Regions from separate parts of the Homo sapiens genome. Here region 2 is linked to region 1. Evidence: fine-mapped expression QTL. A gene starts in region 1. The other region holds a variant in brackets. All regions are shown on one strand. Distances are from middle to middle.

Evidence for each region.
Region 2: its variant is fine-mapped to the expression of CLHC1 in cerebellar hemisphere (GTEx, PIP above 0.99).

The regions. Positions count from the first base shown.
Region 1 is chr2:55,230,816-55,233,727 of GRCh38, forward strand. It overlaps CLHC1 (clathrin heavy chain linker domain containing 1), which reads right to left and starts at 1,478. Exons shown (of 13, transcript NM_152385.4): 1 at 1,408-1,478. It overlaps RPS27A (ribosomal protein S27a), which reads left to right and starts at 1,873. Exons shown (of 6, transcript NM_002954.6): 1 at 1,873-1,893; 2 at 1,993-2,057; 3 at 2,548-2,602. The coding sequence starts at 2,010. RefSeq lists enhancers at 1,523-1,952, 1,973-2,152.
Region 2 is chr2:55,210,883-55,213,794 of GRCh38, forward strand. It overlaps CLHC1 (clathrin heavy chain linker domain containing 1), which reads right to left. Exons shown (of 13, transcript NM_152385.4): 5 at 1,791-1,924. Among named protein-coding and RNA genes, the nearest start is that of CLHC1, 20 kb to the right of the region's middle. The variant T/C (reference allele first, on the strand shown) is at 1,273.

The DNA.
Region 1 (2,912 bases):
AGCTATCCGATCAGAATGGTGGGGACAAAAGCCTGACAGGAGTGGGTTCAGACAACGGAAGGGAAAGATTAGAGACAATATGTACAAGCAACTCTAGGAAATTTTGTTGTAGAGACTAGTTGGCGGACTAGGGGATGAAAAATGTTCCAGGAGGCAGGGCGTGGTGGCTCACGCCTGTAATCTCACCACTTTGGGAGGCCAAGGAGGATGGATCATTTGAGGTCAGGAGCTAGAGAACAGCCTGGCCAACATGGTGAAACCCCATCTCTACTAAAAATACAAAAATTAGCCGGGTGTGGTGGTGGGCGCCTGTAATCCCAGCTACTCGGGAGGCTGAGGCAGAAGAATTGCTTGAACCTGGGAGGCGGAGTTTACAGTGAGCCGAGACCGCGCCACTGCACTCCAGCCTGGGCAACAGAGCGAAATTCCGTCTCACGAAAAAAAAAAAAAAAAGTTCCAGGAAGAATAAACGACTGGATTCTTCAGAAATGCCAAAACACGGGAGGGCATAGGTCAGGAAATTAAATTAGCTTCATTTACTAAAATGTAGAGTAATGGGTTTAGCAGATTAGGTTGTAAGGAAGGCAGAGGCTGAATGTCATTCTAAGAAATTTGAATTGTATCCTGAAGGTGAGGTATAAAATAATAACACACATTTACCTTTCAGAATGAATATTTTGGAGGCAATAGTGAAGGTGGGTTAGAAAGGAGGAAAGACTGGAGAGAGATAAGGAGTTAGATTCGGAACCCCTACAAGAGAAAATTAAGGTCTGAATTTGGGGATGGGGTCGCAGAGGGCAGAGGATGAAGAAATAAATACAGAAGACATTAGAAAGGACTCTGGTTTGTGGAGTGGAGAAAGGACAGGGAGAACTTGCTTCTAATTGGCCTCCTTGCCGGAAGAAGCACCCCATACATACTCCAAAAACTTCCTCTCAGATCCAAGACTCCCAATGCCCAAATTTGGAAATTCTACAACTAAATAACCATTCTGCAGGTTTCTTTTCCGTACGGCTTCACTTTAAAATTTGAAAACTCCTGAGATTTTTCAACATATTAAAGCGTGTCACACTAAGGAGTGACACACAAGACCCAGACTCTTCCCTAGGCTGGGAGAGACTCGGCGGTTGAAAGCAGGGAGGCGCTACAGGAGAGAAAGGGCTGAACCCCCGCTTCCGCAGATTTCACCTATTTTTCAGTTTGCCTGGAGCAGGCCACGCAAATTCCCTTCCCTTGAAGGCCCAAGGAGCGTCTGGTAGATTGCTGATTCTCTGCCCATCACCGCTTCTGGAAGTGAGTGAAGGACACCTTTCGTGCCCCGCACCCTTTGCCCCCCGCTTAACATTTGCTCTAGTCACTTCCGGCCCGTTCCCACGCTCCGGAAACCATTATTCCGCTTCATCCTACCTCCAGTCCTCACCTGAGTCCTTTTCTCCAAACACCGACTTCAGTGCTTAGAGATAGTAACTAGGGAATCTGGGAGGTGGAACTGCATCTTGGGACAAGTAGTCCAAGGTAGAAGAAAGCAGTGGAGAACTACAGTTCCCAGAATGCACTTCCATTTCCTACCTCTTCCCCAAGAGGCCCCCCTCGACCTCCTTTTAAAAATTCTCTTAGCCACGTTGATTGTACGGGAAAAGCCTTTTTAAAACATCTTTTACGTTGCTTAAACCTACAGTTTCGAAAGCATTCCGAAGGCTAAAGTGAGAAATAAGCCCAGGCTAGGGAGAGGAGAAACGAAGTTCACGTCCTAGTCTGGCACCGGGTTGGATTGTCGCTGGGACGGCAGTCAGGCATTTGGTGTGGTCGCCTAAGGGGTGGGTCCTTCGGCGGGAGCTCCGGGAAACCCCGTGGGCCTGCGCGGCGTTCTTCCTTTTCGATCCGCCATCTGCGGTGGGTGTCTGCACTTCGGCTGCTCTCGGGTTAGCACCCTATGGTGCCTTCTCTTGTGATCCCTGACCTAACCTGTCTCTTCCTTTTCCTCAACCTCAGGTGGAGCCGCCACCAAAATGCAGATTTTCGTGAAAACCCTTACGGGGAAGACCATCACCCTCGAGGTACGGGCCGGGTGGTCATGAGGAAGCCAAGGTCCGAATAAGGTCCTGAGGTGGATTTTAGGACCGGCGCTGCTTTCCATGTCTTAGACCATGATTCCGAATTTGGGTTCTAAAACTTAAGCTTTGAAATGAGTACCTTTTGCTGAGCAACGACCTAGAGGTGATTTTCGGTGGCCAAAGGCTGGACCTGTCTCCTCTCGAGGGGTTCCAGCTAGTTAGTTAAAACGGAGGAGCTGCGGTGGGGAAGGAGACGCTCTGCCCGCCGGGTGCGAGCACGTGTGGCCCTGCGGCCGCCGCCCGCTCTGGGCTGGGGAGATGAAGGTGCTTTCCGGTAGCCGACTTGGGAGGTTGCCCACTGGGTGGGTAATAGGTCTCTCGAGTAGGTCTCAGCCCTGTCGCTGGTTCGGTTCAGTGGTAATTGTCAAACTAAATGAGTTCTGCTGTAGTTCCTTAATGTGTAACCAACATGCTTTCACTTTAACACTCATAGGTTGAACCCTCGGATACGATAGAAAATGTAAAGGCCAAGATCCAGGATAAGGAAGGCAAGTAGTATTTTGTAGTTAAGAAAACTTAACCTGCGGAGACTTCGGCCTACCTGTAGGTGCTAGACATACCTGCTCTTGGTGATGGGGGAAGGGGTCAGATTGACAAAGCGAAATACTTGTGGAATAACACAATAGACATTGGTGATCGGGGAGCACAGTACCTAGATTGGAATCCTTGAGGTGTATTTCACTTGCGTGAATTTGGACACTTATTTATTTATTTTGTGTGAGATGGAGTCTCCTCTGTCGCCCAGGCTGGAGTGCATTCGCTTGTCCCGGCTTACTGCAGCCTCCGCCTCCCGGGTTC
Region 2 (2,912 bases), 20 kb before region 1:
GGCTCTCACAGGGTCTGCCCAGGCTGGTCTCAAACTCCTGGACTCAAGAGATCCTCTCACTTCAGCATTCCAAAGTGCTAGTATTACAGGCATGAGCCACTGTGCCCAGCCCTAAATAATCCTCCTTTCTCATCTGGGCCAATTGTTGACTTTAGTACATATCACAAAATACTCCTCCCCCAGAAACTTACCTGCATTGATTCTACTTAATTTTAACCAGTCCCTTACCCAGAATTTTCTCAGCACTTAGTCCCAATTTGTCAGTTATACTGTACTTATTAATATGTATCTTATTCGTCATTTGCTAGTCACAATTTTATATTTGAAAGTGAATCTAGGCCAGGTGCAGTGGCTCACGCCTGTAATCCCAGCACTTTGGGAGGCCGAGATGGGCAGATCACAAGGTCAGGAGATCAAGACCATCATGGCTAACACGGTGAAACCCCGTCTCTCCTAAAAATACAAAAAAATTAGCCGGGCGTGGTGGCAGGCGCCTGTAGTCCCAGCTACTCAGGAGGCTGAGGCAAGAGAATGGTGTGAACCCAGGAGGCGGAGCTTGCAGTGAGCCAAGATCAGGCCACTGCACTACAGCCTGGGTGACAGAGCGAGACTATGTCTCCAAAAAAAAAAAAAAAAAAAAGAAAGTGAATCTAGTCCCTACTTTTATGAAACACAAGATGATTATTCAACCTCATTTGAAATCCTTTAGTATAGAGTAGCTCATTACTTCAACACACAGCTTCTTCCACCAAGACCAAATCTGGCTTCCTAAAATTTCTACCTATTAATCCTGCCTCAGAATAAACACTAGCCAAAATCTTTAAAAGTTTGGAATACCATTATCTTTTCTCAAAGTCTTTCTTTTTTCCAGGATGAATATCTGTAATTCCTCTATCCACTCATCGTAAAAACCTCTCCATATCCTAGATGAATTCCAGGATATACTACAATTTCTTAAAATGTGGTAACAGTATTATGCTGAAGATGTGGAAGCAGTGAATGCTGACATCAACATGAATCAACAATATCCACCAAAACTTAATACACTACAGTTTTCCTTATATTATACCAGTCGTTCTCAAACTTTAGAGTGCATCAAAAAAACCTGAAGCGGCTGGGCACAGTGGCTCATGCCTTTAATCCCAGCACTCTGGGAGGCTGAGGCGGGTGGATCGCTTGAGCCCAGGAGTTTGAGACCAGCGTGGACAACATGATGAAACCTCATCTCCACTAAAAACACAAAAATTATCTGGGCACAGTGGCACGCGCCTG[T/C]AATCCCAGCTACTTGGGAGGCCAAGGCACGAGAATCGCTTAAACCCTGGAGAGGGAGGTTGCTGTGGGCCGAGATCACACCACTGCACACCCAGCCTGGGTGACGGAGAGAGACTAGGTCTCAAAAAAGAAAAGAAAAGAAAAACCTGAAGGTCTTGTTAAGACACTGCTGAACTCCACCCACTGAGTTTCTGACACAGTTAAGTCTCTGATCTGATGGGAATCAGGAATTTGCATTTCTAAGAGGTCTTTAGGTGATGCTGATGTTGATACAGGAAACCATACTTCAGGAGCCACTGCATTACACTTTATATAACCCAGCTGACTGAAACTCAATCTTTTAGAGTTCGTTTTTCCATTCCCTTGAATCTACCTACAGTCCTGACTAAAATTATGTGTACAACACACACACATGTGCAAGATGCACATACATCAGCACATTTATATTAATGCATGCCTTAGGTAAAAATTGGAAATAATCAGGATTTCTCTCAAATATTTTAAACAAAATACAATACCTGGAATAGGTTTTGAAGGATCTTTGGAGAAAGTACAATATTTTACTTCTTTTGTGTCATACTCTGCCCTACACTGCTTGATGTGATCTATTTGAGATTGAATCTTCGAGGAATTACTTTCGATAATCCTCATTCTGGAAAACAGAAAGGCTTTCTTATGTCTTTCAACTAACTTAATTCTTGAACCACAAAACCTAAAGTCAAACAGGTTAAATCATTACTTTATTTTGAACCATTATGGACTAGGTGAAATGCCCTGAAAAAGTTATCTAGCCTCACAAATGAGGAAGAATTTTCTTTCTGAGCATCAATAAAATCTCATACTATGATTCTGAACCCTATTGGAAATTCGTTAAGTGCTAATCACAATAATATGGCCACAAACTATTCTCTTTAGTAGAAAATTACTTTTGTAATTTAAAAAATATTTTGGTAAGTAATTATATTAGTTTCCTGTGGCAACTGTAATAAATTACCACTAACCTGGTGACTACAAACAACAGAAATTTATTCTCTTACAATTCTGGAAGCCAGAAATTCAAAATCAGTATCACCGGACCAAAATCAAAGTGTTGGCAGAGCCGTGCTTCCTTCAGAATCTGTTCCTTGCCTTTTCCAGCCTTGGGGCTGCAGGCATTCTGACTTCATCACTTCAGTCTCTGCCTCTATGGTCATACTGCCTTCTCCTCTGCCTATGGCAAAGCTCCTGTTTCCCTCTTATTAGGACATTTATGATCATATTTAGGGCTTACTTTTATAACCTCCCTATCTCAAAATCTTTAATCACATCTGCAAAGACCCTTTTTCCAAATACGGTTAACATTTAGGGGTTCTAGAGACTAGGACCTGATGTCTTTGAAAAACTTTATTGAGCCTACTACAGTAATTTTGATCCTAGAGCTAGAGGAAGGACAGCACTTCCCTGAGATAAAACTAAGTTTATCCAGAAATGAAAATTTTAAAGACCAAAAGGTAGTATAAACTTCTCTTAAGCATTATTTGAAGTTTTCTTCCTAGTTATGTTGGCCCAAGGGAGAAATAACATATTAAAATACACACAGAAAAATTATTTTTGACACTTGTTAAAGCATAGTAAGGAAGACTTTTTTCAAGAGGGGCCAT